Regions from separate parts of the Homo sapiens genome. Here region 1 is linked to region 2. A link means that fine-mapping ties the variant in region 2 to the expression of a gene that starts in the linked region. Tissue or cell type: lung. Region 2 holds a variant in brackets; the other region holds the start of a gene. All regions are shown on one strand. Distances are between the middles of the regions. Region 1 holds the start of PLS3-AS1 (PLS3 antisense RNA 1). Region 2 overlaps PLS3-AS1 (PLS3 antisense RNA 1).

The links. PIP is the estimated chance that this variant, and not a neighbour inherited with it, causes the effect.
Region 1: it holds the start of PLS3-AS1, and the variant in region 2 is fine-mapped to the expression of PLS3-AS1 in lung (GTEx, PIP 0.98).

Annotation. Positions count from the first base shown.
Region 1 is chrX:115,555,362-115,571,780 of GRCh38, reverse strand. It overlaps PLS3-AS1 (PLS3 antisense RNA 1), which reads left to right and starts at 9,050. Exons shown (of 3, transcript NR_110384.1): 1 at 9,050-9,155; 2 at 9,251-9,377. It overlaps PLS3 (plastin 3), which reads right to left and starts at 10,607. Exons shown (of 16, transcript NM_005032.7): 1 at 10,521-10,607. RefSeq lists enhancers at 5,123-5,687, 9,058-9,833.
Region 2 is chrX:115,520,173-115,536,591 of GRCh38, reverse strand. All of the region lies in intron 2 of PLS3-AS1 (PLS3 antisense RNA 1), which reads left to right. Among named protein-coding and RNA genes, the nearest start is that of PLS3, 33 kb to the left of the region's middle. The variant G/A (reference allele first, on the strand shown) is at 9,290.

The DNA of each region.
Region 1 (16,419 bases), 35 kb before region 2:
ATCCTCAGCATTTTAAGTTTTCAATAATATATTTTCTCTTTGCCCCTACTTTTTTTTCCTCCTCCACAAGTCAGGTATCAACACTACCTATTACCTTTCATTCTGATTTAAGCTGTATTTGTTAGCGGCCTTGAGTTTATAACGGTGTCTGTAATTTACTGAGCCATGTTTCCAATTTTCCTTTGAAGGTGAGTTCTTGTTTCTTTCCTTTTCCTTTTCCTCTTTCCTTTTCTCTTTCTCTCTTTCTTTTTCTTTTTTTTTTTTTTCCAGAGTCTTGCTCTGTCACCCAGGCTGGAGGGAAGTGGCACGATCTTGGCTCACTGCAGCCTCCGCCTCCCAGACTCGAGGGATTCTTGTGCCTCAGCCTTCCAAGTAGCTGGGTACATAGGCATGGGCCAACACGCCTGGCTAATTTTTGTATATTTAGTAGAGACAGAGTTTTGCTATGTTGGCCAGGCTGGTTTCGAACTCCTGAGCTGAAGTGATTTGCCCGCCTTGGCCTCCCAAAGTGTTGGGATTACACGCGTAAACCACTGTGACGGGTCTTGGCTAGTTCTCCACATATCCTCACAAAAGAATAAATTAAATGGCAGGGTTCAGTGGCTCACGCCTGTAATCCCAACACTTTGGGAGGCCGAGGTGGGTGGTCATGAGGTTAGGAGATCAAGACCATCCTGGCTAACACAGTGAAACCCCGTCTCTACTAAAAATACAAAAAATTAGCAGGGCATGGTGGTGGGCACCTGTAGTCCCTGCTACTCGGGAGGCTGAGGCAGGAGAATCGCATGAACCCGGAGGCGGAGGTTGCAGTGAGCTGAGATCGCGCCACTGCACTCCAGCCTGGACGACACAGTGAGACTCCGTTTCAAAAAAAAAAAAAAAAAAAGAATAAATTAAACGATAAACAGGTTTCTGAGCTAAGCGAAGAAGCTTCTTCAACCTGAAACATGGCTAGAATCCTTCACATTCACAATGAAAAACAATAAAAGGAGTGTTTTTCCAATACCATTAAATAAAACACAAAAAACCCCACTAATTTCTAAAATCTTGCCAGCCTGGGCAACATGGGGAAATCCCATCTCTACTAAAAAACAAACTACAAAAAAAAGTTAGCCAGGCATGGTAGTACACGCCTGTAATCCCAGCTACTCGGGAGGCTGAGGCACGGAGATCGCTTGAGCCCCGGGAAGTCAAGGTTGCAGTGAGCTGAGATCGCACAGTTGCACTCCAGCCTGGGCGACAAAGCAAGACTCTGTCCAAAAAAAAAAAAAAAAAAAGGAAGGTAGGAAGGTACTCAAATTAGAGAAAAAGAGGTAGATATAGATGCCTGACAAAAATCATCTAAGGCAACATTAATCAACCTGTAAATGAAAATACTTATTGAGCACCTACCATATGCTAGTTGCTTTATAAGTGTTCTCATATAATAATTATGAGAACAAAGTGAAAAGTGAGTGTATTATCTTCATTTTATTCATGGGGTAACTGAGGTTCAGAGAGTTAAGAAACCTCCTCAATGCCACAGAGATATAAAATGGGAGAGCTGGCCCAGGCGCGGTGGCTCATGCCTGTAATCCCAGCACTTTGGGAGGCCAACGCAGGTGGATCACGAGGTCAAGAGTTCAAGACCAGCCTGGCCAAGACGGTGAAACCCCATCTCTACTAAAAATACAAAAATTAGCCGGGCACAGTGGCAGGAGCCTATAATCCCAGCTACTCACAAGGCTGAGGCAGGAGAATCGCTTGAACCTGGGGGATGGAGGTTGCAGTGAGCCGAGATTGTGCCACTGTACTCCAGCCTGGGCGACAAGGTGAGGCTCTGTCTCTAAACAAATAAATAAATAATAAAATGCGAGAGCTATTGGAACCCATACTTTATGCTAAAATCCATTCTGACTGTGCAACATAGCATGTAAATGATGCCCCTGAAAAGAAAAGAAAGGTAGTGAGAATGTGTTGTTGGGTGAAAGGAACCTTCCAAGTCACTTCTGGGTCATAATAGAATTCCCAGACCAATAAAGTCTTTGGTGAGTGAGGCTAGTGAACTGGAGGAAAGAGAAAAACACCATGGAAGGGTCTGTGAAATGGCATGGGTTAAGTTTCAGGAGGGATATGTAATGTACAATGAGCCATTTAAATACACAAAATATTTGTAAATTCAAGTGCTTGTAATTTAAGCAATCGCCATATACTGAAACCAGGCACAAATTAAGTGACAGCATCAGAATTTTTACTATTATTGGACCTATGTTTAGTTATATTATTTAAGCAACCTGAATGAAATGTAAAACTCTGAGTTTAACTGTAGTTTATTGAGTGATATCAAAGTACTTTAAGAAACTAATAGCCTTGAGATAAAAGGGCATATCAGCAAATAGTCATTTAGCCAACACCAGGATTAAATGTTTCTTTAGGATACTGAATGTTCATAGGCACAAATAAGCTTTGTATACTTGAACTGAGTTTTATAATAATATTAAACATAAAGGCTTCTTAAAAACAAACGTGTCTCCCTTCCCCCATTAACAGTTCCGTTTCAAAAAACAGAACTTCCTATGATTGTACACAGCACAGAATCCTACCTCATCCTGCTCTGCACCTGCTAACTAGATCAGAGAAAACCAAAATACTTCCAAGACATATACTTTACCTAAACAAGTTCCAGTTTAGAGTCACATATGATACAATACACTATATAAAGAATGGCCTTTTCTTTTTTCTTCTTCTTTTTTTTTTTTTTTTTTTGAAACGGAGTCGTGCTCTGTTGCCCGGGCTGGAGTGCAGTGGTGCAATCTTGGCTCACTGCAACCTTCACCTCCTGGGTTCAAGCGATTCTCCTGCCTTAGCCTCCCAAGTAGCTGGGATTACAGGCGTGCGCCACCATGCTCAGCTAGTTTTTTTGTATTTTTAGTAGAGACGGAGTTTTGCCATGTTGGCCAGGCTGGTCTTGAACTCCTGACCTCAAGTGATCTGCCTGCCTTGGCCTTCCAAAGTATTGGGATTACAGGCCTGAGCCACCATGCCCAGCCTTCTTTTTTTAAATGCCACTGAAATCAAGGCTATCTTTTTGTTTAAGCCAATGTTTAAATTTCAGGGACTATCAAAGGAATTCATCTTTAAAACATTCTTGGTGACTTCTAAAAAATGATAGAGTGCAAAATGATGTTCGATCAAGAATGCTTACTGAAGCATTATCTGTAAGATATGGAAACAAATGTTCAACAACTTGGAATTAGTGAAATAAATTATGAAACAGCCATTATATAAAATATACTGCAGTGATTTTAAACATTTTTAAAAATATTTGATCACTTGGAAACATGTTTATAATGTAATAAATGAAAAGAATGGGATATAGTGTTATTCCAATTTTTAAAAATTTCTCTTCCTACATATAAAATAAACATAAAAATATGAGCATTTAAAATTATAGTTACCTTGAATTTTTCTAATCCAAAGCAAAGTGATTGAAAACATCTTTAAAGTACACACTACACAAGACACTTTCCCAGTAGATTAATTCATACATGTTGAATAGTATAGCAATAGGATGTGCTCTAGGGACAATTTCGTATCATTTTCACCTCTGAGCAAACTCTTTGCACCCTATAATGGTGATTCTTCCTGATCTGAAACACAAGCCCCAAAATGTTAAAATGAACAACAAGAAATGGCAAAAATGGGAACATTCAAGCAAGTTAAGAAATATAGAAAAAAAGCTTGAAAATTACATTCATCTATGAATGAAAGCGTTATTTTCAGTGTCAACAGCAGAATGTCAATCTGAGTGCAACACGATGTAATTAGAGCTTATAATGTGGAACACAATAATATGAATATTCAAAACTATTATACGGCCCTAACAAATTTTATTTTACAGAAAGTAAAAACTTATATTATATATCACGTAAAACTTTATATAATATACATATGCACACATAAGTGTATATATACTCGTGTGTGTATGAATATCACAACTCAAGGGAATCAGACTTGTATTTTCAATGAACTGGACAGAGTATGAATGGGCGACAGAGTGAGAACCTGACTCAAAAAAAAAAAAAAAAAAAAGAAGAAGAAAAGAAAAGAAAATCCAAGTTAATAGCTTTGAAGGTGTTTATTTTTCAACTTAACTTCCCACATTTTCTGTTTTTTTTTGTTTGTTTGTTTGTTTTTCTGTTTTTCTTTTGAGATGGGGTCTCACTCGGTAGCCCAGGCTTGGAGTGCAATGGCGCAATCTCGGCTCACTGTAACCTCCGCCTCCCAGGCTCAAGCAATCCTCCCACCTCAGCCTCTTGGGTAGCTGGGACTACAAGCCCGTGCCACCGTGCTTGGCTAAGTTTTTGTATTTTAGTAGAGACGGGGTTTCACCATGTTGGCTAGGCTGGTCTCCTGGCCTGAAGTGATCCACCCACCTCGGCCTCCCAAAGTGTTGGGATGACAGATGTGAGCCACCGTGCCAGGCCATTTTTTGTGTTATTCATGGCATGCTACTTAAATGTATAGATTATCTCTTCCACTATGCAGTTTCCCAGACCTGCGTGTTGTCCTCCTTTAGACTGCAATTATGAGGAGGAAAAACTTGATTTTTTATGAGGTTTTTTACACGAAACCTCCCATTATGGGCAATCACAAAACTAAAAATGAGGTATGGTAAGCCAATGGACTCTGTAACAATTACCACTGAAGACCAAAATTCTACTCAGTAGTTAGTTAAAAAGGGGAAAAACACCACCCAATTAATGGCTTTAACGGGCTACCTTGCACAATATTTGAGGTAAGAAATAGAAGAAAGTATCACATGGGCTGGGCGCGGTGGCTCATGCCTGTAATCCCAGCACTCTGGGAGGCCAAGGCGGGCGGATCACAAGGTCAGGAATTCTAGACCAGCCTGACCAACATGGTGAAACCCCATTTCTACTAAAAATACAAAAATTAGCCAGGCGTGGTGGTACGCGCCTGTAATCCCAGCTACTCAGGAGGCTGAGGCACGAGAATCACTTGAACCCGGAGGCAGAGGTTGCAGTGGGCTGAGATCACGCCATTGCATTCCAGCCTGGGCGACAGAGCGAGACTCCATCTCAAAACAAAACAAAACAAAACGGGCCGGGCGCGGTGGCTCACGCCTGTAATCCCAGCACTTTGGGAGGCCGAGGCGGGCGGATCACGAGGTCAGGAGATCGAGACCACGGTGAAACCCCGTCTCTACTAAAAATACAAAAAAACTAGCTGGGCACAGTGGCGGGCGCCTGTAGTCCCAGCTACTCGGGAGGCTGAGGCAGGAGAATGGCCTGAACCCGGGAGGAGGAGCTTGCAGTGAGCCGAGATCACGGCCGCTGCACCACTCCAGCCTGGGCGACAAAGCAAGACTCCGTCTTTAAAACAAAACAAAACAGAACAAAACAAAAGAAGAAGAAGAAAGTATCACATGTAGGTTTTTATTCTATTGTTATCAACCTAGTCTCTTATTTTTCATTATAATATGTCTGGCTTTATTTTTCCTTTGCTTGTAAAAATTGGATGGGTGCAGAACTTTTACAGACAAAGAAAAATGTGGCAAGACTTACGTGATGAGAACCCTGCCATTTCTGTAAACTCTTGTTAAAGCTTTAGTGTTTCTATGATACACTGCTGCAGTACTTTGAATTTATATAGCACCTGTCTGCTTAAAAGCCAAGGCTTCACGTTTCTCACTTATCCTTTTACCATGCCTGTGAAATATGTAGATTGGAATCACATGGCTTAAAAATAAAGTGAAACCCAGATATGACCACAGAAAATTTCAATGAGTTACTTAAGATCATCTATCTGTCCAGACTGCAAAGGACTAAAAGACCCTAAATTCTATGCTCAATGCTTTTCCAATAAACAACACTACCTCCTTATTATCAAATACGTTTCTAAACTTTTAAGAAAATGTAAGGTTTCTCATATTATAAAATCAGTAGGCTTAATGCACCAAAAATCCCTGTCAAGGAATTAAATAAATGGCACCTCTTTATTTTAAAGAACTAACATTAGTCATGGAATAACCCACTGGTGATCACTTTCCTGAATAGTCATCAATTTGCCAACAAAGTATTTAGCTTGGATCAATGCAATTGCATCAAAGTTTGAAAAGTCAACTGATAAGTGAAATAAGCCAGATTATGAATATTTGAAAAAATAAAACCCAGCAAACCAAAAAGCTTGAGCAATCCTCTCTTTTTATAAACAAAAGCATGAATGGTGTCTGGCACATGTATGTACTCAATTAGTTATTAATATAATAATTTTAAATGACTTTCCGAAGGTCAAATTATGAGTCAATGGCAGAGCACTATCTAGAATCTAATTCCTCTGAGGGCAAGTTCAATGATTTACTTAAGATAATCTATCTGTCCAGACTGCAAAGGACTAAAAGACCCATGCTAAAATAATTAGTATTTTCATTTTTGTATACTAACAATACTTCTTCATCCCTAAAACAGTTTATACTCACTAATATTTATCTTCCAAGTGTCAAGACTAAGGCAAAATTTGGTATTATTAAATTTATCGTGAATCTTCTGAAATTGTCTCACCTCCGTAACTAAAATAAATTGGCCCAAGTATGATCAGATCTTCTAAGACTGACATTTCACGATTAGACTGTTTCCATAACTTTAACCAAAGCGCTCTCATAACTAAAATCAGCTAGTCATGACCACTGGTATATAAAAATCTTCCAACATTGTAATGTATCCAAAAAGCTTTGAAACCTCCAACACACTGAATATACATTATATGGTATATCACTGTCTAAAATAATACAGACTCAAAACATGACCCAGCTGACTTCTTCTAAATGAGTTGTATTATTTTCACAGATCAAAAATTTTGCCTTCTGGATCACTCTTCACCAAAAGAAAAATTGCCATATGACCAAAGACAACATGATTCTAAAAACAGATACCCCATTGTTGTCATGTATTGAGAGATATTCATTTTCAAATTTTATTTTATACCAGCTACTTTCATAATCTGTACCAAACATCAAAAAAGAAACAGTTCAGCTTATACATTCCACATAGATTATGCTAGATCAAACACAACAGCAAACTCATGAATTTATCATATGTGCTAAGAACACTGTCAGTACATTTCATGAAAATCCAAGTAGAAATAATGCCTAAAACAGAATATGGGATAATGGCAAATGGACTTTCTTCTTGTACCCTCTCAGTGTCACCAAAAAGAACCACTTTGGTGCTCAAGCACCATGGCCAAGCTGCCCTTTTATTTTCAGTAACAGAATTCTGTTCTCCTGGGAGAAAAATCTCATTGGGTTTCTGATAGTGCCCTAGATACTGACATTCTGCCAGTATAAACAGTCACAGTCAAAGTCTAATGTGCGTGTAACCACTTGTGGAAGAGGCTTAATCTCACCCAAATTATTACTCACTAGTTATAATTAATCCTTCTACCCAAAATGCCATAAGCCTAGTCATTTTTATCAATTGAATCTAAATGGTTACATCAGACTAGAGACTTTGGACTTCAATGTTGATCGTCTGTATTAAGTCAAGGCAAAGTGTTATTTATTTATTAATAGCTCCCCACCTCAGGTAAAGGGGTTGCTATCTGCTAGATCTAACAGTAAAAATCAAGAATTTGACTCCCAGCCCCCTAATTTCAATAAAAATTTGGGCTCATTAGATCATACCACCAAAAAAAGTCAGCAATATTGGGGGTGGTGTTCAATGAGTAGGCATCCCAAGACAATGAAAAGCTGTGGACTAGAGCCTAGCGATGATTCTGTTTAGACATGATTTCACAATACTTAAAAAAGAACTTATCCCCCTACCACTGTAACCTAGTTGAGTGGTAATAACTTCCTTTTTTTGAGGTTAAACATTTATTATTTCGATCTAAAATTATATTATCACCTCACTTCCACTAGAGGGGTCTATCTACCAGTGTAGTTAACTCTAGTAACTCAGGTGCACCTTAAATCCATTTCCAGCTCATCTGTGCCACAAGGCTAGCCTTGGGGTCAGAACAATGTGCTTTAAGGTTGTTCTAGTTTTCAGGCTCAGAAACGGATGAACAGCAAGAAACTGGAGTGCTCCGGTCATTCAGAGGCTGCTGCAGGAGACAAAGGGTTTTTGGCAAAAGAATACAAAGTCAGAATCTCTTAAATATCTTCTGCCCTAGTTGTTTTCAAGACTGAATATGCATCAACCAGGTCCGTTTTTTCTTTTTTTTTCAGATAAGCAAAGCTTTTAAACTCCTGACCTCAGAGGCTCCTCTGCCTCTCTTCTATACTCTGTAATATATAATCTGAATAGCCAAATTGCCACGTTTTCCCAGAAGCAACCTTAACTTGGGCCACTTGGGCGGGTATAGGTCAATATGGGAAAGTTGTTTCAGTGTCCTCTCATTATTCTACCAAACCACTGACAGGCAAAAACCCAACCAACTCGATGTATCAAATTTACTATCCACTGTTTTTGTGCATGATTTCTAATCCAGTTAATTGAAAACCACAAATAACTGGTGGTTAATTTTAGTCAAGAGGTTATTTACTACCTTTAAGTAGTTGCCTAAAATAGGGAACAGTTCAATTAGAATATAGGCCAGACCAAGGAAGATGAACAGAGCCTTACTTTTTAACACTATCTTGTGGGATTTAGCTTCAAATCTAGTATTCAGGGACAAAATGAGGCATGAGTAATAGGATGACTTCCCTAGAAAATAATTAGTAAGATGTTTTTTAAATTTAGAAAAACCATGAGATTGAAGAAGAGAGGAGATACATGTCCCAGCTCACATATATTTCAATCCCTTATTTTAAAAACAGCTCCTGTTTTTGTTTTGGATAAAAGCTGAGCACCAAATTCCCTTTCTGGTCCCCTCATCCAAAATCCTAGTAGACTTCCTTGATTAGAAGCTAGTTCACACTCCTCCCCACCTTTTTTTTTTTCAAACGTAGAGGTGGTTTTTGGAATATGGGCCTCAACCATTACATTCCAGCTTTAAAGTAAAAAGACGTCATGTGACCATCAGAGACTTGGGGCACGTGATTCCAACTGGTATGTGTGGGGCTCCAGCCACTTAGTTGGAATTCACCATGAACTGCATCTCGAGGATCAAGTTTAGGCTCCCCAGTCCATTGTGACATCCAGCAAAGTGGAGTAAGTGCTTGCCCCTCAATGGTTTTTACTTTTCCCTACATTTTCTACCTACTGTTAGCCAGGCTCCCTTCCCTCCTCCCAATCCCTCTTAACAGGCCGGGCGCCCCCAGCATCCCGTCTGTCTGACGCTAAATGGCGAGGCTCTCCAACCCACTTAGCTCCAAGCTCAACCTTCTGCAAAAGTTCAACCTTCTGCACCACTGGGGATATCGTGCAGCTCAGGTGAGAGGCAAGGAGCATCGCATAAGGCTAGAGTCAGATGCCATTAACCCCCACTCCACCTCCCGGGCTGGGATCATCTTACGTCCCGGAGCCCGGCGGTCGGAACCGCCAGCACACTGGAGCAGCGACGGCGGCAGCAACTTTGGGACTGGCGAGAAGCCAGGGCGGGGGTGGTCGGCGTCCCCGGGCCTCTCATTACAGCGCTTAAGTACTGCGGGTGGAGAAAAGTAAACACAGGCAAGTGCAGCTGTGCGGGGAAAGGGCGGGGGGGTAGACTATTACCTCCCTCCCGTCGCCCCTTTGCCTCTCCCTCTCCAAGAGTCGGGAGAGGTCCGGGACTGCCGCCGCCCCGACCGCGCGCCCGGGGCCGCAAAGTCAAAGGAGCTGAAAAAAGGACAGGGGGTGTGGGGCCAGGGGAGAACGGAAAGGTACTGTCCTACTAGCCCAGAGATGTTCTCCTACTGAAAGGAAAAAAAGTGCTTACTCATAGGGAGACTAGGTGCGTTCGCGACGCCCTCGCTAAGGACAAGGGAGGGAAGCAGGCAGAAGGCAGGCAACCCAAACCTCGTGCCTTCCCTCGGCCACGGCCCCCCCTCTCCAGAGCCCCAGGGTCGGCTTAAGCCAGCCAGGTCACCCGAGGCGGGCGTGTGGGGGCTGGAGGAGTAGCAGGCTGCTGGCTCCGGGATTTCCTGAGTCCGGGCGGGAGGGAAGAGGGGATGGCAGTAGCTGGAGAAGGACGACAGAGGGAAGTTGTGCGCTCCCTTTCCACTTCGGGGCCGCAGCCGCGGAGGGGAATCAGGGCAAGGGCTGGCGTCTAGGACTCCAGCCCAAGACTGGCAACAAGTTAAGAGCAACTAGTAAGAAAACACCACTTAATACAGTGAAGTGCAGAAAACGTGTCTGCGGCGGATGCTAGTAGGGAAACTCCCCGTCACTCACACCCATTTCGGTTGCGACCGATCGCCCGGGCGCCCGAGGGCTCCAACTGAAATTTCTCCGACCTCCCTCTCCCCCAACCCCCGCCCCACGGTGCGCCGCACGTTCCTGCTGAGCTTAACCGAGATGCTCTCCCCGGGACCCACTCCTGCCCACGCCCAGGAAACCCGCTCCCCTAGTGCCCGCCGGCGCCTACAAAGCACTTACGTAAAGTCGCAGAGTCCTGGGTCTGGCCCGACTGCCGCCGACCAACCCACTCAGACAACTTCTGCACCTCGGAATCTTTGCAGCTGTGGCTCTAAAGCCAGCGCTCCCTCCCCTCCTGCCAGCCCCCTCCGCCCCTCGGCCGCCGCCATTGGCTCGGGTGGTGCTAGCAGTCGGCCTGGGAACCAGGAAGGGGATTGGGCCACGAGCCTGTCACATCAACTGGGTGGGGATCCAGGAAAATAGGCACGGGGATGGGCACCCAGGAGGGATAGGGACTGCAACTCTGCTGCAGGGAGAGGAGAATGGTCCCCAGCGCCTGAGTCTCCCCTTCCTACTTGGGCTAAGAGGAAGTTAGAAGTCCAACGTGCCTGGCTCGGAGTACACATTCACACAATCTTGTGGGATTAATAAAAAGATGAAAAAGTTGGGAACAAGAATTTGAATGCCACCTATATAAGTCTATGGGGGAGGGGTACAGTTTCTCCCAGAATCGTGAGAAGAATAACGGCATGTTGGGGAACATTCCTAATTACATCTGCAACAATCAGTCCAGGTGCCAAAGGGTGCAGAGGGAAACATCAGCAATCATTCCTTTCCTTAAGAAGTCAAGGGAGAAGAATATGGGCAGGGCAGGGCCCTCAAGCCTTTGGCCTCATGCCAAGTAAATTGTTAGCCCACATCACCTGTCTGGTATGTTTGTCCATGCGGAGAGGGGTTGAGAGGAGGTGGTTGGAAGTACATTGGTTCCACTCTTTTGACCGGAAATGGGTATCAATTCTCATCAGTCTCCTTTCACCAGAGAAAATTTGGAGACATGTTACTACTCCCCAGACTGCCATTTCTTCTCCTTCTCTGCCCAGGAGATGGCTTCCACGTCATAGCTGACCTCTTTCATTAATACACGTGGAGGTTATCTGCATTCCAAACCTATGGTTCATCGTATATCCAAAATCAACTCAGAGAGCCAGAGTTTGAGGGATTTTGCAGGGTCAGGTCAAGAGACTGACTTGTGGGATAGCTGTAGAAGAAAAAGTCTAAGCCCTTTCCTGTTCCAGTCGTAACCATTTTGTTGAGGAAATGTGTGCTTGGAAAGTTCTGTCAACATTTAAAATTAGTTCAATTAAGTCGCATTTTACATGTACCAGGAAAAAATGCTGAGAGGCTTTAAAATGGAATGTTCTTGAAAAGGAACCCCTATTTCATCTGCCATTATGAATTTCCTTAGAGAAATTAATCCGTAGTGAGTGCCAAGGCTTCTTAAAAGGGAAGAACTTGGGGAGTTCATATATTGCCTAAAGGCTAGACTAGCAGAGGACTTGGCACGAGGAAAAAGCCTTGTTAAATATTAATTAATGATTAACCAACTGGAAGAACTTATGAAAGGCACAGGAAGGTGAAAAAGAAATGGGAGGGCAATCATGCTTTCACAAACATTGAATTTCTGTTATGGGAGATTTTCTACTGGTTCAGGTTTGGGCCAGCACAAAAATACTGATTTCAACATGTTGGCGTTGGATTGAACATGGAGCCAGTGCATTGCCACACACATTTACAGTAAGCTCCCAAATGAGATTTCTAGCATTCAGTAATTGGCCAAAGGTTTGGTGTGACTTCTGGAATTCTTTACAAAAAATTTTTAGATACAGGAAATAGGCTTTTTCAGTTTTCTACCTTTTATGGTGTCTGTCGGTCACCGCTGAAGAGCTTCCACCTGCTCTTAAACTTAAAATTACAGACTGAGCAATAGCATGAAGGGACTCTGTAAGCTAAATTTTCCAGTGCAGATATATTTGTCTCAATTACGTTGTATTCAATTTTAGTTTATTTTTCAAATTCTAGAATTTAAAGTAAAAATATTAAGAATCCTACGTATATGCTATTTACAGTTCCTGTTTTTAATTCAAAAAAGCTTACATTGGTCCGAGTAGGGTAGCTCACGCCTGTAATCCAGCACTTTGGGAGGCTGTGCAGTGGGAGGATTGCATGAGGCCAGGAGTTCAAGACCAGCCTGGACAACATAGCAAGACCTCATCTCTACAAAAAAAATTAATAAAATTTTTTAAAAGCTTAATAGAATCTATACTTTGATAAAAGTCTTCATTCACCACTATCACTGAGGATGTCAGAATTCAGTCAAGAAATGTCATTTTAATTGAAATGCAATAGTCCATAGTTTCAAAGCTGCAGTGTACCTAGCTGATGGCATTAGTTCTCATTGCCTCAGTAACTTTCCAACAGATAAAACACACCCTAAACACAGAAGCACCTATTTGGATGCTAGCTGAGATTCCTGTTTAACAAGCTCCACTATATAATCCAGGTAGAACTCCATTTTAATGAATACTATTAAGATACCCAGCCAGTTTGATGTAACTAAGCTACCTTTGTGTTGCCCAGAATCTAAAGGATCTTTTCAAATTTAGCATTTTGCTGGAAGAAAGGATCCTCAGGCTCAAAGCTCTTAAACAGCATTTCTTTATAATTTTTCATGCCATCAATTTACCTCATAGAGGATCATTCACGAAGTAACCCAAAGTTGATTGTTTTCTTATCTGTATCAAAAAGCCTGCACAGATGTTTGTCAGGGTTCCCTCCACCTGCTTATAGGCTTTAATTTATTTTGACAGTGACTTGCATAGTGCCTGACACATAGGAGTTCAGTAAATGTTTGCTGAACCAATGGTTATTTTATGTCTATTCTTGTTAAACAACAGCAACAAAAAGCTATTAATATATATAGGATTCTCACAGACCTTGTGAATCAGTAACCTAAGAGTTTTTACCTTTCCTTCCATTTCCAATTTTCGATCCTAATGCCTTTGTAATAAATCACTTAAAGTCAATATCACAAAATTTTGAAAACCATTTATTCTTCCTGTCCTCCGCTGATATCATAAGAAGGCGCCAATATCTCTCTTAGGTTTTTTGTCTGTCCAAACTACTTTTCTTTCCTCCTTTTGATACGCACATCCCCCTTTTTCTTGCTCTTTTTCCTATTGTTCTGCCCAACACTCTCCCCAGTCTAGCTCACAATGTATTATGTGTACATAGTCTAAAATTTTCCCTGAAATTTTCCTAGAGTAAGTTGTCAGTTTCCTCTTCTATCCATTTTTAATTCTTTATTCTTAACATGTCATTGCTGGTTTGAACTTTTTTTTTTTTCCTTGAGACAGAGTTTCACTGTTGTCACCTCAGCTGTAGTGCAACGGCACAGTCTCAGCTCATTGCAACCTCTGCCTCCCGGGTTCAAGCGATTCTCCTGCCTCAGCCTCCCAAGTAGCTGGTATTATAGGCACCTGCCACCACACCCGGCCGATTTTTGTTTTTTCAGTAGAGATGGGGTTTCACCATGTTGGCCAGGCTCCTCTCGAACTCCTGACCTCAGGTGATCCACCTGCCTTGGCCTCCCAAAGTGCTGGGATTACAGAGGTGAGCCACCGTGCCTGACCACTGGCTTGAACTTTTTATCCATTTTTTATTTTATTTTATTTTATTTTATTTTATTTTTTCTTCTTTTTCCTCACCCCGTCTGAGATAATTTTTATCATTTTTTTTAAAACCTCCTTTCTGTAGTCTATTAAAAAATGATTTTGCTGCATAAACTTTATATAAGCCAGGAATAACTTAAAGAATCTTGATCAGTTCAATACTAAATCATTTTTCTAACACACCTAATTGTTTTCTCAGTCTCTAAATGTAAAATTGTGTACTAATCTGTTTTAATTAATTGTATTTTATTTTATCAGATTATTTTCAAGGAATTATCCTTTTTTAAATCATCTTTTTAATTCATGGATAATTCTATTCCATGTTGTGATATTTTAGGTTCTTGGATTGATCCTAATCCCTCTTTTTATTCAGTGTGCTGTGAGATGACATTTTTATTAAAATTAAGTATGATTTTAAAGGTTTCTCTCATACTTAAAATATTTGGCATAGAGGAAATCTTGGAAGACCTGGACAATTATTAATTTTTTTTTGATCCATAGGATACAGATTTGAACAGTTATTACCACTGTTTATTAGTGGAGTGTTTTTATGTTTCCAACTCAAAATGTACACATGTATAGGACATGAATATTAATAGTGAATAGGCAATTGTCAAATATTTTTCAAACCTAAAGATTATTATGAATGTGAATGCCTGCTAATGCAGGCCAACTATCTTACACGCACATTCACATAAAGAAATTACTCTGACATGTCCAAGCTTATTTCAGATTTTCACTTGTTAAAAAAAAAATTATCAGTATCTGAGAATAAGAAAATTAAAAAATAAAAAACAAAAAATTAATTGAAGTCTCTTTAATAGGATTAGGACATATTTAATCAGTATGGACTTTATAATATGTAGATTTAACAAAGATCACTATCATCACTGGAAATGCTCAAAATTAAAGTGTCACCCTCCCCTCTCCCGACTTTCTGGGTGTTAAATATCTAATTAATCAATCAGATAACTATTATAAGCAACATAGAAAAAGTATGGTCTCAAAACACAACGAATTAATAGTCTAATATTAATTCAAGATCAAAGTCCACATAACTGTAATAATGAGAAAACAATTCAAGATAGAATATATAAGAAGCACCGTAGGTAGGCTGAAAAGAATGAGAATAATAGGGCTAAAGCAGTTGTAGAAGGCATCCTTTGTGCAATGGAACTTGAGCTAGGCTTGACAAAGATGGGTAAGACTTGATATAGGCAAGTAGAAATGAAAACCATTTTCATTCCTAGGAAGTGATAAAAGAAAAACTTCAGACAAATTAAATTTAACATAGTTTAATTGAGCAATGAACGATGGGGCAGCCACCCCAAACCAGACTAGGTGCAGAGAGACTCTGGTGCTGCCACATGTTCATAGAGAATTTATGGACAGAAAAAGAAAAGTGACATACAGAAAATGGAAGTGGGGTACAGCAATAGCTGGATTGGTTACACCTTGGCATTTGCTTTATTTGAACTCAATTTGAACAATTGGCTGCTTTTATTGGCCAAAACTCAGTAATTTTTACAAGTGAGGGTTACAGTGTGTTTACACATCTGTTTAGGTTACAGTTCACTATGTATGGAAATACTGTTTTTTTTTTTTGGCAGGGTCTCGCTCTGTCACCCAGGTTGGAGTGCAGTGGCACGATCATGGCTCACTGAAGCCTCAATTTCCCAGGCTCAGGTGATTCTCACACCGCAAGTCTCCCAAGCAGCTGGGACTACAGGCTCGTGCCACCACACCCAACTAATTTTTTTTTGTGGTAGAGACGCGGTTTTGCCATGTTGTCCAGGCTGGACTTGAACGCCTGGGCTCAAGTGATCCACCTGCCTGGGCCTCCCAAACTACTGGGATTAGAGGCCTGAGCCACCACACCCAACCAGGCTAAACTTAATTTAACATAAGAAAGCAAAATGGGAGCGCTTTAGGTAAGTTTCTGAGTTTGGGCTTTCTTTCCAGGCTTCTACTTCCTTATCTGCAAAAGAAAAACTGAGGATTTGCCTACCACAAAGGTGCAGTGATAACATCAATGGGAAGGAAGATTGCTTGGGATCTCACTAACGTAATCTTTTTAAAAGAGAAAATATATTTTTTTAACACTTACTTTAGTGATTAAAAAGACTTGTGGGCTGGGCTCATGCCTGTAATCCCAGCACTTTCGGAAGCCGAGGTGGGTAGATCACTTGAGCCCAGGAATTTGAGACCAGCCTGGGCAACATCGCAAAACCCAGTCTCTACAAAAAATACAAAAATTAGCTGGACATGGTCGTGGTACATGCCTGTAGTTCCAGCTACTTGGGAGGCTGAAGTTGGAGGATCACTTGAGGCTGGGAGGTTGAGGCTGCAGTGAGCTATGATATCACCACTGAACTCCAGCCCGGAAAGCAGAGTAAGACCCTGTTGAAAGA
Region 2 (16,419 bases):
ACAATATACATTGTATATAGTGGCTACCCAGTTGTCAGCTGGCATATCTAGTCCTGGGCAGAGATTTGATCAGTTAGATATAGTGCATCAACCTATGAAATCTCTCAATTTTGAACCTATCCTTTTAATATGGAGAATGAAATTCACCAAATCTAATTTCCCCCTTTCAGTTTGGGAATGCTCAAGTCATGACCTCCCATGGACCTGGGAGAAAACCTTGGCTCTGCCTTCCTCCCAGATTCCCTGAAGCGACCCCCAGTTTGTTTTTGTTTGCCTAGCAACCAAGAAGGGGCCATTTGCCATACTGATTTTAATATGAAGACATTTGGGTTCTAGTTGGGTATTCAGCTGGAACATAGTGTACTGGAATTATCTATGTCCCGTGATCTCTCTATCAAGCATTACCAATACAAAATTAATATGGAGGCCTGACTAAGATTCTTTAGTATTTTCTCATACAAAGTTGGTCTCTGGTAGGGTGGATGAAGTAATCCAGCATGTGTCATATTCCTTTTCAGTCTTTTCATTATCAAAATTAACCCCTATCCAATCATCTAACCTTTAAGGAAGAAATTACATTACTCATATGATTGCAATTTTAAATTCATGCAGGAAAGCCTTTCCTATATATTTTTAAAAAACACTCAAATATTAATGGTGTTAGTTATGTTGATCAGTTGGTATACCAGTTTGTACAAGGAGAAATGTTTTGGGCTAAGAGTTCTAAATTAGAATATAGTTAGACTAAGGATTGTTAGTAAAATTTTCCTTTTACTTTACCCTGATACTTGGTTTAACTCCCTTCAGACATCTGTTCCTAGAGACTGTTGTCTTTTCTCCATATCCCCCTCTTCCAATTAGAGAGACAGATAAGCAGTTGTCTTGAGAATATAAGGTCACTGGCATTCCATAAATGGATTCCAGTGCCTGCTACAGAAATAAGTGGTGAGTGTTCTCTGTCACTTGCAAACTATAAATTAATTAAGTTGACAACTTTTCCTTCTTTATGTTATGTTTTCAGAGGGACTTTTGAAGTACCTTTTATTGCATTTTCTGATTATTAGAGTAACATATGGTCATTGTAGAGAATTGATAGCACAGATAATCACTAAAAGAAGAATAAAAACCTTAACACCCATAGATAACAGCTGTTAGCATTTTGATTTATTTATTTACAGCTTTTTTATATGCATGTAAAAATGTTTTAAAAGAAAATTGGGATCATATTATATATAAATGCCATATCTTGCTTTTCAAAGCATCCTTGTATCTGAAACATTTTAAGCACCATTAAGTGCTTGAAAAAACCATTTTAAATTGCTATATAACATTGTCATGTGGATATACCATGGATTGTTTCTTTAATCATTCTTTTATCATCTTTAGATTGATTCCAATTTTTCCATCTTAAAAATAATTATGGGCCGGGCACGGTGGCTCATGCCTGTAATCCCAGCAGTTTGGGAGGCTGAAGTGGGTGGATCACCTGAGGTCAGGAGTTCAAGACCAGCCTGGCCAACATGATGGAACATGGTGAAACCCTGTCTCTACTAAAAATACAAAAAATTAGTTGGGCATGATGGTAGGCGCCTGTAATCCCAGCTACTCGGGAGGCTGAGGCAGCAGAATTGCTAGAACCTGGGAGGCAGAGGTTGCAGTGAGCCAAGATCGTGCCATTGCACTCCAGCCTGGGCGACAGAGTGAGACTCAAGTCTCAAATAATAATAATAATAATAATAATTTTGTTCTTAGTCCTTTTTCTAAATTTCCGATTAGACTAGAGTCTTAGGAATTTACTGAGACTAAGTGTGTGATTTTTTTTTTTTTCAAAAAACATTCATAGTAAGAATTCTTAAATTGTTTTAAAGAAAGTTTGAGGCTTGGCTTACTGGTTCATACCTGTTATCTTAGCACTAGGGGGCTGAGGCAGGGAGGATCCACTTGAGCCCAGGAGTTTGAGACCAGGCTGGGCAAAAAAGTGAGTCCTCCAACTCTACAAAAATAAATAAATAAATAAATAAATAAATAAATAAATAAATAAAAAATAAATTAGCTGGACATGGTGGCCTGTTGTAGTCCCAGCCACTCAGGAGGCTGAGATGGGAGAATCCCTTGAGCCTCGGAGGTTGAGGCTGCAGTGAGCTGTGATTGTGCCACTGCACTCCAGCCTGGGCAACAGACCCTGTTTCAAAACAAAACAAAACAAAACAAAACAAAACTTTACACCAATTTGTCCATCTATTATACTAGCAGTGTTTGTGAGTACCTATCCATTTTACTGAAATTTCTCTCAATCCCTTAAACGTTCTTAATTTGACTGACAAAAATGGTATATATCACTGGTGTTTTAAAACGCTGAATGTTAAAAAATATGTATACCATAAAGTTCTTAAACTTTCCCATATGTATTTATCTCTGTTCTTGTTCTTTATCCATGTTCCCTTTTGACTTTCGTGAGCTTTTTTATATTTCAAATCTATCAACCCTTCTTAATGTTTGTTGCAAATATTTTCCCAGTTTGTGGCTTGTGTTTTAGGTTTTCTTGTTTAGTAATGGTTTTTGAGCTTCAACTTTTTCCATTTTTGTGTATTCTAAATCTATTGATTTTCCACATGTGATTTGTTCCATTGCTTATGTGCTTAAAAATTCCATTGTTTTCAGTAGAGTTTTTGGTTGGTTTTACTTAGCCAGACTTATAATTTTGAAGGCAATGGATTTGTTCCACACAACTGTAAATATAGCTGTAATTGTACTTTGTTCATTTTAAATATTTTATAGGCAGATTTGGATGTGCTAGCTATAAAAGTAGGAGCAGCTGTAATTCCTTTTAAACAGGGCCGTGTGTGGAAAGAGCAACTCTTAAGAAGTCTTTTGAAAAAATACTTGAAATGTTGACATTTTATTGCAGTGAACAGCATTCCACATTATTCATTTCACATTGTGTAAGAGCCCTATAACTCAAGGCAACACAACACTCAAATTGAATAATACCCCAGCATTTTCACTTTCAGAATTATTTGACTGGAGCTTTGTTTCAAACTAGCTAAAATAGCATTTCTCAAAGGGTGGTCTTTGGACTCCCTGCATCAGAATCACATGGATACTTGTTAAAATGGAGATTCTTGAGTCCCTCCTCCAGACATACTAAATCAGATCCCTCAGGGTTGAGGTCCCTGAATCCACATTTTAACAAGTATCCCAGGTGATTTGGGTGCCCTCTAAAATTTGAGAATTTCTAGGTGAAAGAGAAACACCCATGGAGGCAAAGGACAAAACACAAACATGTGAGGACTTGAGTTCAAAGATAGATCTGGGCCAGGTGCGTTGGCTCACACCTGTAATCCCAGCACTTTGGGAGGCCAAGGCAGGAAGATTGCTTGAGCCTGGGAAGTCGAGGCTTTGAGCTCTGATCTCACCACTGCACTCCAGCCTGGGCGACAGAGTGAGACCCTGTCTCAGAAAAGAAACAACAAAAAACAAAAGAAAACAAAAAACAGTGTATCAGTTAATAGGAAAAGGAATAGTCAGAATACAACAGGGCTTAAGTCTAAGAGTACTGGTCTATTAATCGGAAAAAGGAGCTCTGCTAACCTCGTGTCTGAGAACGACTCACAATCCTTCAAGTTCCTTATCCTTCAAACGAGGATAAGGAACTCATTTGTAATTGTGGTGGCTTTCACCTGTAATTGTGATGTCTCTCACCGGTAATGGCAGCCCTTTGGGAGGCTGAGGTGGGTGGATCACTTGAGCCTGGGAGTTGGAGACCAGTCTGGGCAACATAGGGAGAACCCATCTCTACCAAAAATTTTAAAAATTAGCCAGGCATGGTGGTGTGCCTGGGACCTGTGGTCCCAGCTACTCAGGAGGCTGAGGTGGGAGGATCACTTGAGCTCTGGAGGTGGAGTGATGGCCACTGCACTCCAACCTGGGCAAGAGAATGAGACCCTGTTTCGAAAAAAGAAAAGAAAAAAGAAAATACATGTACCAGGAGTTTCTTTTTGTAAGGTCTAATTCTGTGCCAAGGAATCATATAGTGTTTTTCTTAATTTGGGAAAAGAATCCTCTGTAATAAGCCATTTCTGTGGACCTCAATGCTCTGTATTGCAAATTAAGACTTTCTAGAATTCAGATTTTATTTTTAGACTGTGATCATTAACTTTTTCTTTTACGTATCTGATTAGGCTTAATGAGTTAGCTACGTTCATGACGTGTAAGGTCCCAACAACAATTTAAAAAAAGATATACATGCACCCAAGTATACATGATTGTAAGGTCCAGGTAAAAGAACAAATTTAACAGTGCTTCATCAGTTTTATTATTGTTAATAATAGAATTGGAGGAAGTGCTAGTAGTGGTCAGCATCTGGAAGGAGTGGCACCAGGAACCAGTGAGTCAGTGTTGACAAGTGTAGAGTTTAAGGCCAAGTAATACAGCCCCTGAAATGAGTTGAAGTAGCGGGAGGGAGAAGGGAGGGAGAAAGCAGGAAATCAGTTGAAGAGCTGTTAAAGTCAGAAGGAGCACAAGTTATTGACAGGATCTACATCAAAAGTGGAACAAAATGTCTCAGTCTGAGTGATGTGATGTGATGTGATATGATGTGATGTGATGTGATGTGATGTGAACTGAGTGATATGAATAGCCACCAAGTTGCTTTGCCTTTCCCCTCCCCCATTTAGAGTCTGGATTGGGTTGGCGCATGAAGTGAGGGCACACCTGTAAGAGGTGACTACATAAAACTAGTTCCTAGAATTAGGGAATTGAGGGATATGGGGGTTGAGAGGTGGTGGAGGGAGTCAAGGCATGTATTTTTCTGTTGTCACACCTTCAGGAAAGGGGAAATATGCTTTCTGAGCAATGTAATTTCCCTTCTGACCTCCATTCTCTTTAGGATTTCAGTTGCCTTTATTTATTACAAAATTACTATATTCCAGTGTCATCAAATCTCAGAGAGTAACAAAGAAACTATATAGCAGTAAATATAGAGATGCATAGTTATTTGAACCCTTCTGAGGCAAGCTCCATTCATTAAGTGGAATAGATGTGGGATTCAAGTCTGTCAGGAACCCCTTAAATTATTTCTGAGTTGGAATTCTTTCTCAATTTCCCACTATGTGTGTGATCTTGAATATGATGTATATGAGCCACATTTTTGAAATCTGGAAAATGGAGATAAACATTTTTATTTAAATAGATATTTGAAGATTAAATAAGATTAAATAAGATATAATAAATAAGTTACTATTTATTATTAACTTCAAATAAATAGTTATTTGAAGATTAAATAAGATATAATAGAAAAAGAACCTGGTACAATGACTGGTACATAGTAAGGACCAGTATCGTTTTTAAATTGATTGATCAAATTTCAATAAGTCTTATCCGATTTTCCAGTATAGTGCCTAAACTCATTACTTTAGCCTTATTCTGTGGGGTCTTCAATTCTTCCTCACTAGTTTTAGCATTTTTTGCTTGTCTCATCATCTATCTCTTCATTCTCTTTGTCTTTCATGTTTTCTCCTTCCCTCCCACCTGTATTTTTAAGGAAGAGCATTGCCTTTGATCTGGAATGTACTCTGGATTCAAAATTATGTCCTTAGCCTCTTGAATACTGAATATATTCTCCTGGTCTTCTACTCAGCGGAATCTCTAAACTAGCCTCCAACTTTTCTCACTTGGCCCCTTCCTCATTTTTCTTACTATGCACTGTTCTTCCCATGGTTGTATCCAAGGTTTTTTTCACATCACTTTTCCCCATTCCAGAGTAACATTTCTAGCCCTCCAGTGTTTGTCATCCTCTCTGGCCACATTCAAGTCATCCTCCAGATATGCAAAAATACACTGACCTAAAATCCAACTAATGATGGATAAAAGACCTGCTTTAAGACTCTGGAATACACTGCACTTAGAGTTAACACTCACTTCTTACCACTATTATTTAATTTTATTTAATATAATTAAACCTCTCTATCTACCCATAGGGGACCAAGAAGTTTAGATTTTGTCTATGGGGAAAATGCTAAAACCTTTCTCCTCCTTCTCTCTGAGTCCAAGTAGTCCTGGATAACAGAAATCTAAAGTCTTTTATTTCAAGTTAATAAAAGGAAAGAAGTTCTTTTTGGAGATATTTGCTTGGAAGCCCCACACATCTGGGTATGCCTCTGATCATTGTACACACACACACACACACACACACACACAAATATATATATATAAACAGTTCACACATTCATTCATTCAACAAATCTATCTATCTATATATATACCTACCTATCTATCTATCTATCCATTTTTGAGACACGGTCATGCTCTGTCGTTCAGGCTGGAGTGCAGTGGCATCAATCATGGCTCACTGCAGCCTCGAACTCCTGAGCTCAAACCATCCTCTCACCTCAGCCACCCAAGTAGCTGGGACTACAGGTGCAGGCTACCACGCCCAGCTACTTTTTATTTATTTATTTATTTATTTATTTATTTATTTATTTTGGAGACAGAGTCTCACTGTGTTGCCCAGGCTGGTCTCAAATTCCCGACTTGGCCTCCCCAAATGCTGGTATTACAGGCATCAGCCACTGCGCCTGGCCAAATTCAACAAATATTTATCGAAAACCTATGACACTTCCCCTACAAAAAAAGACAAAACAAAACAAAAAACAAAACAAAAACAAAAGCTATGATGTGATGTGACTGGGCATGGTGTCTCACCCCTGTAATCCTAGCACTTTGGAAGGTCGAAGCGGCAGGATGGCTTCAACCCAGGAGTTCGAGACCAGACTGAGCAAGAGAGGGAGAGTGTCTGTATTAACAACAAACAAACAAACAAAAAACTAAACTAAAAGAAACTGTGGTGTATAATATAAAATTCTGGCTGAGCAGATTAAGATGAGCAAACTACATGGTTGAATAGGGGAGATGAACCATGCACACAACTATAATACACAGCAAGAAGGAATAAACGACACATGGTGGTACAAATGAAATAGAATATGTCTTTACAGAAGAGAGAGATTTCTCCAGGCTGAAACCTTATGTAATTAATTTCCTTCAGTGACTGACCAAATAATATGTCGGTTTCATGAAGCAAGCCTCAGCTACCAGATGTTAAAATATTTCAACTCTACAGCAGCAGCTAGACAACATCCAAAAAAAATTTAAACTCAACATAAGGAAGAAATGAAATTCAATTGCTTCAACAATGAGCATAGTGTAATTGGATGAGGGCCGCCTGTTGGCATCAAAAGGTCCTGACAATTGCAGCGATCCATTTGTAAAGCCTTCTTTCTTTTCCTCAGGTTGTGGAAATAAAACAGTCCTCAAGAGTAAAGTGGAGAATTTCCAATTTTGTCCTTTAATAAATGAGTTGTTGGCATTGTATAGAATGAAAATAATGATACGTCTTTTTCCACCAAAGCATAATGACCCTTGTGGCCTTTCTCTCCACTCTGTACCCTGTACTTTAGATGGTAAGCAGCAATTTGAGTGGCAACATTGAAAAAGATGTTAACCCTCTGTTGCTCAGCAAGTACTAAGCAGATACAGAGCCTACATTGTGCTCACTGCGCCAGGACTAATAGCAAAGTGGTGTTCCTGAATTTTTCCCCTTCCTCCAAGCTCACTGAAACATAAAGTCTGGCATTAATAAATAAATACAACATTCTGATTGAGAAGGTAGTGCATCCACGGATAACTGGAAAACTTACAATCCTAGAACTTTGTCTTACATTGATGTTGACATCGTATAGGAACTTAGAATCTAATTTCTGTAAATAAATTTTGCAAAACGTTTACGAAAATCATGGAACAGTTAGGTTTCAAAAATTTTTTTTACAGTCAGGGAAGAAAGAGTTTCCCCCGCCCCCACCCCTGCACACAGCGGTGTAAAAATGCTTTGTTTTTTAAAGGACGTTAAATTATAAAACCCAGCTCTGAATTTTAAATGCCACAGACGTGAGGGTATAACACCTTATTAGGTTGCCAGATTTAGCAAATAAAATTACAGTATGCCCAGTTAAATCTGAATTTGAGATAAACAACAAATAATTTTTTTTAGTATAAGTATGCCTCATGCCATATCTAGCAACCTTAACCTTAGAAAACCATGCTTGATTATGTAATATTCCAGCTGACTGGTTAATTTTTAGGAGGCAGGTTTGCTTTTTATTCCCTGGGTTTTCATCTTTTCCCATTCCTGCATGTCTCCTCAGCATATGAGATTTTTTTGAATGAATGGAAAGATCTTCTGTGAAGAAGACCATTCAGTTCATAAATGAATTATTTTAAAGCCCTGAACCCCTCTGCAAAAAAAAAAAAAGTGAACAAAAAGCCCCTTTTTGGTCCTCTTTTTGTGCTGTTACAATTGCTCTTCACTTGTTGATCTGGGTTTAATCATTCAGATAAGTGCTTCAACTTTAAGTGCCTCAATTTTCTGCTGTTCTGAATATGAAGGCTCAGTATAAATGGGTGGGGGAGGGAGGGAGTCTATGGCACTGAGTCACATCAATTTGAAAAATAAGTATGTAGACCTCATGTGGACTTTTCCTGTAATTAAAGACTCTCACTTCCCAAAATATATAAATCAGATGCTTTACCTGTTCTGATCATTTCAATGAACATTCAATTCATGCGTCCATCAGAGGGTTCACAAATGCACGAAAAGTTCATAATTCAGGCTGGGCATCATGGCTCATGCCTGTAATCCCAGCACTTTGGGAGGCTGAGGTGGGAGGATCGCTTGAGACCAGGAATTCAAGACTGGCCTGGGCAACAGAGTGAGACCTCGTTTCAACAACAAAAAAAATACATCTTCTTCACACTTTTTTTTTCCAGACATGGTCTTGCTCTGTTGCCCAGGCTGGAGTGCAGTGGCATGATCATAGCTTACTGCAGCCTCAAATTCCTGGGCTCAAGTGATCCTCCCACCTCAGCCTCCAGCATAGCTGAGACTACAGACACATGCCACCACACCCAGGTATGCAACCAAAACTTGTAGGAAATATTACTGATTTTTAGTATTTGCTTTATTGTGTCATAAGAAAACCTTTTTACAAAACTTGAGACATCTTCCTATTAAGGTTATAATTCCATTATGGCAGACATATGTGATGTTGAAATCACTTTTAAAATCATTATATTTTAAAAATTATTGCTTTTGAAACATTTCTTGTACTTTCTTCAACTTTTTTATTAAAAATATGATTTTTACACCCTCTTCTTTTGAAGTCATTTGCAGAAGGACATGCAACAATAAGTGCCTGAACTGTCTCTAGAAATGCATAAGAACTCTATTTAGGCC[G/A]GGTGCGGTGGCTCACACCTATAATCCCAGGACTTTGTGAGGCTAAAGCAGGAGGATTGCTTGAGGCCAGGAGTTCAAGACAAGCCTAGGCAATATATTAAGACTTTGTTTCTACAAAAATGAAATAAAATAAAAGGCATGATGATGCACGCCTGTGGTGTCAGCTACTTGGGAGGCAAGGTGGGAGGCTAAGGTGGGAGGATCACTTGAGCCCAGCAGGTCAAGGTTGTGGTGAGCAGTGATTGCACCATTGCCCTTCACCTTGGGCAACAGAGGAAGACCCTGTCTCATAAAAAGAACTCTATTTAGGCTCTTTCATATATAACATCTGCCCTCTCAGGAATCTTTTTAATGGAAAAACATTGATGTCCTTCTGTTTATGATGATTATTTCATCTTTTGTTTAACCTTCAAAAACCTACAAAAGTTTTAAAAGATGTCATGTCTAGTATCTCAGGATACTAGAAATTGAAAGAAACTTTCTCAATTTGGCCAAAGTTGTCCATGAAATCTTTGTAGCCTATATCACATTAATGGTTTAAAAAAGTGAATGCTTTTCGATAGAAAAGAGGACATGAAATGTTACCAACTCATAGAAATGATAAATACTCAAGGTGATGGATACCTCACGTACCCTGACTTGATCATTACACATTTTATGCATGTAAGAAGCACTCACAATTTCCCCATAAATATGTCAAATATTATGTATCAATAAAGGGGAAAAAAGTGAAAGGGTTGCTCTTAAGATCAGGAACAAGATGAGGAGGTTTGCTCTCACCAATTCTATTCGACATCATACTAGAAGTTCTACTCAGTGTAATAAGGCAAGAAATAAAAGGCATCCAGACTGGAAGGAAAGCAGTTAAGGCTCTCCTTATTCACACATAACATGATCTTCTACAGAGAAGAATCTACAAAAAAATCTACCAGATATAATAAGTCTGTCGTCCAGTCTGGAGTGCAGTGGTGCTATCTTGGCTTACTGCAACCTCTGCCTCCTGGGTTCAAGCGACTCTCTTGTCTCAGCCTCCTGAGTAACTGGGACTACAGGCGTACCCCACCACACCCAGCTAATTTTTGTATTTTTAGTAGAGACGGAGTTTCACCATGTTGTCCAGGCTGGTCTTGAACTCCTGGCTTCAAGTGATCCACCCACCTCGGCCTCTGAAAGTGCTGGGATTCCAGGCATGAGCCACCACGCCCAGCCACTTCTGTTATCATTTTAAAAGCAAGAAAGTTCCATTAAACAGAAATCTTTATATACTTTTTTTTTTTCAGCCTTGCTGAGAATGAACTCCCGTATGGTTGGTATGCATGGAGATGTACTGCCTGATTAATTTATCTTATACTTTTGGGCGCAACCAATTAAAACTTGTGGCAGTCTCTTATTTTTTCTTTCTTTCTTTCTTTTTTTTTTTTTTTTTTTTTTTTGATAAAGACAGGGTGTTGCCATGTTGCCCAGGCTGAACTCGAACTCCTGGGCTCAAGTGATTCTCCTACATCAGCCTCCCAAAGTGCTGGGATTACAGGCATGAACCATCACGCCCGGCCTGAGTCAGTCTCTTGAAGTCAGAAGTACACTAGACCGTAAAACTGGAGACCTAGTTGTGCTCCAGCTGTGCCAACATTTAGTTTCACGATATGCAGCAAGCCACTTCACCTCTCTCGGCTTGAGTTTCCTCATTTAGTAAAGTAGGTGGTTAACAGAGGATCACTCCTGTTCCGCTTCTAAGACTTATTATTTAAGATATATAGAGAGTTTAACATCAATTTTATTATCACTTGAGACACCACTTCAGTGCTGCAACTTGAGCATTGAAGAGCAGAGCAAAACACTTCATAAATGCAGGTAAGAGTGGATATTTTGGTCTGACTCAGATAATTGCCTTAGTTATAAATTGGCATTGTAGATCTATCTACAATGTATGTTAATAATATCAAAAAATAATAAAATAAAATCCCCAGAATTTTCTGCTTTCCCAAATAAGCTCATTAAGTGTAAAGAAAGAACTAGTTTTTAAGATCTTCTGATTTAGACATTCAAAGTATTGAAAGGGTAGATTCCAGATTGATAACCATAAGGGTCTTTAAAGTGGCATTTTTAGGCAGGGCGTGGTGGCTCATGCCTGTAATCCCAGCATGTTGGGAGGCCAAGGCGGGTGGATCTCCTAAACTCGGGAGTTTGAGACCAGCCTGGGCAGCATGGAGAAACCTCGTTTCTGCCAAAAATACAAAAACAACAACAGCAACAACAAAAAAAAGCCAGGCATGGTTGCATGCCTGTGGTCCCAGCTACTCAAGAGGCTGAGGTGGAAGGATCGCTTGAGCTGGGGAGGCAGAGGTTACAGTGAGTTGAGATTGCACCACTGCACTCCAGCCTGGGTGACAGAGTGAGATTCCATCTCAATAAATAAATAAATAAAGTAGCATTTTAAAAAAGTATCTGCAGTTTTATTCTTATGCTAAACATCTAGGCCCTGTTTTGAAGGCACATACACCACACTTTTATACTCAATCAAGCAGATAGCCAAGTTGTCAGTGTGCATGTCTTACCAATAATGTTATATTGATTTCTCTGTAATTGTTTCTTTAGTGCATTGAGGTGTTATAGTATAAAATCATTAATCTTGAACTTTGAGTACCTTTATATTTTTTGAAAATAACAAAAAGTGATGTAGTATGCCCTGTTCCATATAGAATATGAACCTTAGAATAGATGCTGTGCTACACAGTTATCATTCCTTTTTCCCCATTCTCTCTATCAGTGTGATCTATTCACCTACTCATATCCAGAAATAAAATTTGTTTTGTTTTGTTTTGTTTTCTTTTCTTTTCTTTTTTCTGAGACAGAGTCTCCCTCTCTCACCCAGACTGGGGTGCAGTGGCATGATCTTGGCTCACTACAACCTCCACCTCCCGGGTTCAAGTGATTCTTGTACCTCAGCCTCCTGAGTAGCTGAGACCACAGGCACCCACCACCAAGCCTGGATAATTTTTGTATTTTCAGTAGAGATGGGGTTTTACCGTGTTGGCCAGGCTGGTCTTGAACTCCTGACCTCAGGTGATCCGCCTGCCTCAGCCTCCCAAAGTGCTGGGATTACAGATGTGAGCCACCATGCCCAGCCTAAAATTTGTTGATATTTAGTTTGTTACAGAAGAAGGAGGATTGAAATAAAAATAAAATATATTTATTATGTAATGACTGGTAACTGATTTTGTATTCATGTACAGATAGAATAACTCTACATTCTGAGAATTCAAAACCTTTTGGACAATTAAAATATTAAGAAACATGATCTATCTTGCTTCAATTGCTTGTTTTTAGCGAGTTTAAATATTTCACTAAACTTCATAGCTTTGAATGCATCAAGGTCTCTTCAGAGTTTTTCAGTGGGTAACAAACTTATGTGTGTGTGTGTGTGTGTGTGTGTGTGTGTGTGTGTGTGTGTTTCAAATTTGCCACTGCGGAAACTGTAAAAAAGAATATATATATATATATTCCCTGTTGCTCAAGCGATTGTCCCACCTCAGCCTCTTGAGTAGCTGGGACCACAGGCACGTGACCATGGCAGGCTATTTTTTTTTTTTTTGTATTTTTGGTAGAAATGGGACTTCTCCATGTTGCTCATTTTGTATTTTTGGTAGAAACGGGGTTTCTCCATGTTGCCCAGGTTGGTCTCAAACTCCTGAGCTTAGGAGATCCACCCGCCTTGTCCTCCCAACATGCTGGGATTACAGGCATGAGCCACCACGCCCTGCCTAAAAATGCCACTTTAAAGACCCTTATGGTTATCAATCTGGAATCTACCCTTTCAATACTTTGAATGTCTAAATCAGAAGATCTTAAAAACCAGTTCTTTACACTTAATGAATTTATTTGAGAAAGCAGAAAATTCTGGGGATTTTATTTTATTATTTTTTGATATTATTAACATACATAATGTTATACAAAGAATATACATATATTTTTTACAGTTTCTACAGTGGCAAATTTGAAGTATGGTAAATGTTGCTTCTGCATTCCAATTTGATAATGAGCCTTAACCTTGTCCATTTCATTCCATTAAAAGAGGAAAAAAAGTAGTTACTGGCAAAGCAAATGGCTCATAAAGTAATCTGAGTGATGGAAAAAGAACAGTTCTCAGCATGGAATGAAAATATCTTTCACCAAGGATGAAGTAGAATTATAGAAGTACTCCATCTGTAGCTACTTTTTACATTTAATAGTCTTAAATAAAATTCCCCTTGAGTATCTCTGACCATTGAGGTCTGAGAGCCTGAAACATGATGAAATTTACAATCTGGGCAGTCATAAAGAAAGTCCTACATTTTTTTCAGGCTTTGAGGGGAATGGGCATTCTATTATGCCTATTCCGTTGGTCACCTTGGGTCTTATAAATTTCTTTATAAATTTGCCATACAAACTTTTATTTATTTTTATTTTATTTAATTAAAATGTTTTTCTTTTTTCATAGTGATGGGGTTTCCACCGTGTTGCCTAGGCTGGTCTTGAACTCCTAGGCTCAATGAATCCTCCCATCTCAACGTCCCAAAGTGCTGGGATTATAGACGTGAGTCACTGTGTCTGGCTGCAAACTTTTGGATATTTTTCTTAAAATAAAAACTTTTCTAACATATACTTGTTTTGTGATGTCAAGATGGTCCAGGGGATCTTAACAAATAATAAAGAAGCCTTTCATGATACAAGGATCAAGACTTAGGTTCTAATATCAGTTTTATTGCACAATTATTGTGTAGTATTGGAAAAGTCCAGTCATCTTTCTAATAATTTATTATAAGGCTTAAGTGCAAATATGCTTAAAAGGTTCTTTTTAATCATAAAGCATTATGCAAATGTGACATATTTTCTCCAAACAGCCACCTAAATGAAAGTGGTGGGTTTTCAATTATCTGAGGCATAAACCATGAATCTATGTACTTTGACTACACATATGAGATGAAGATTAGCCTTGTGGTTGCTTATTAGATTGAAATGCTTTTGCATACATATTCATATAGAATACTTACAAATCAAATGTCAACTTTGTTATTTATATAGTGTTGACAATGATGATAATAGGTAACACTAATTAAGCACTCCGTATACATCATGCCTGGTGCTAAGCAGTTTCCATATGTTACCTAACTCAACAGTTGAAACGACCCTGTATTATAGAGAGGAAAGAGATAAAGCCAGGATTATAGATTGAAGCAATCCAACTCCTCTCTTAGCCATTATATTTTTATGCCTTCCAATACTCTTAAAAATCTGCTGTCTGTCAACTTTTTATTTCTGGCAGAGCATTCTTCAGAATAAATGCAAGACAAATCCTCCAGAGAGGCTTCTGGAAACTACAGACTCCAGATAGTCTCATGATACATTGAGTAATCTGGTTAAATGGAGAGTAAACATTAGGATTATGAAAACACAGAAGCACAGAACTTAATGGAGAGAACCTGCTTGATTTCCATAACAGAAAATCATGCTATACTAGAGTTTGGGATAAGTAGAAAGTAGATACAAAAGTGGGAGCCTCAGACAAAAGAACTTTAAATTTAAAAAAAAAAAACCACCTTTGAAAGTTTTTAAACCAAAAAGTTTTGATTACAGTCCACATAGCATTGCAGGACATGTAATGTAAGAGCTTAGAGATGAGTGGGAGGAGCTGATGGGGAATTTTGCAGGCAATATGACCACTCTGTAATTGTAATTGACAACTTGTCAATTACCCAAGGTCTTCCATACCCCTTGTGCCATCTGGTAATCACAGTATTCTGGTGAGGAAAATAGAACAGATTCTATTATGCCATTTTAGAGATATTTTAACTGTTAATGGCAGAATCTTCTTAAAATTAGCCTTGAGATTGGTCTAAATTATCATTTTCACAAATTATCTTTGAAGAGAAAGTACATGAGTACATTGGTCCCAACCCACATTTATAACCCCAGCATCCATCATGACTTTATTCACATTATATTCTAGCTAGACAGAATTACTCCCCAGGCAGTTATACATCTTTACCCATTGCTTTTTTTTTTTTTTTTTTTTGAGACAGGGTCTCTTTCTGTTGCCCAGGCTGGAGTGCAATGGCACAACCATAGCTCACCATAACATCAAATTTCTTTGTCTCAAGCGATCCTCCTGCCTCAGCCTACTAAATATGTCGGACTACAGGCAAGTGCCACCATGCCCAGCTAGTTTTAGAGGGGGTTTTATTATGTTGTCCAGGCTTGTCTTGAACTCCTGGGCTCAAGAAATCCCCCTGCATCAGACTCCCAAAGTGCTGGGATTACAGGTGTGAGCCATTGCGCCTGGCCTCTACTCTTTTTTTTTTCCTACCATACAAGCCCATCCCAACAACTTATCTCTATTCATATTGGCTTTTCAAATCACATCTATATTTCCACCCCTAAAATCTCCTTACTTCTTGATTTCTTCAAGCATATGTTAAAATGACAAGTTCTGAGTTGTCATCCCTGGAAAGGGTGCCAAGGGTCCTTTATAGACTCTCTCCTGAAGACAGCTGCCCAAGTATTGTTTCGGTCAAAATAATCAGGAAAATGTTGAACATCATTAAGAAAAATTGGAGGAAAAACCAGTAAGCAGTCATTCTATTTTTTTTTTTTTTTTTTGTAAATCCTTGAGGTGTCTGCATCCGGGCTCTTTTTTGTAGTTCTGGTCTATGTACAAGACAGGAATAATAGAGTTGGAGAAGACCCTGAGACGAGCAACTGAAACGGTGAAGGGGACGGAAAGCAAGGCGGGATATAAGCTATATATAAAATGATAACTCTTCATATTAAAACTGGCTAAAGGTAAGCGTCATCAGAGAGCTGTGTGGCTGCCAGATTTTGTTACTGGTATCTTGCCAGAGCATATGTCCTAAACAGTTTTATCTCCAGTGGCCTCATCCTTGGGCTGTAGTTTGGCTATTCTATTTTCTCTAACTCAATTTCTTGAATTTCTGACAATTTCTTCAGTCCCACACATCCCCATTTACCAGGAGCTTCTCATTACAGAGTGGTGAATGTCAGGATGCCCTTACCTACAGGTAAGGGGCAGGTGAACAGTCTTATTTATGTTCATACGGGTTCTAGTTTGATTCTCCCCCCAGGCCAATTGTCAT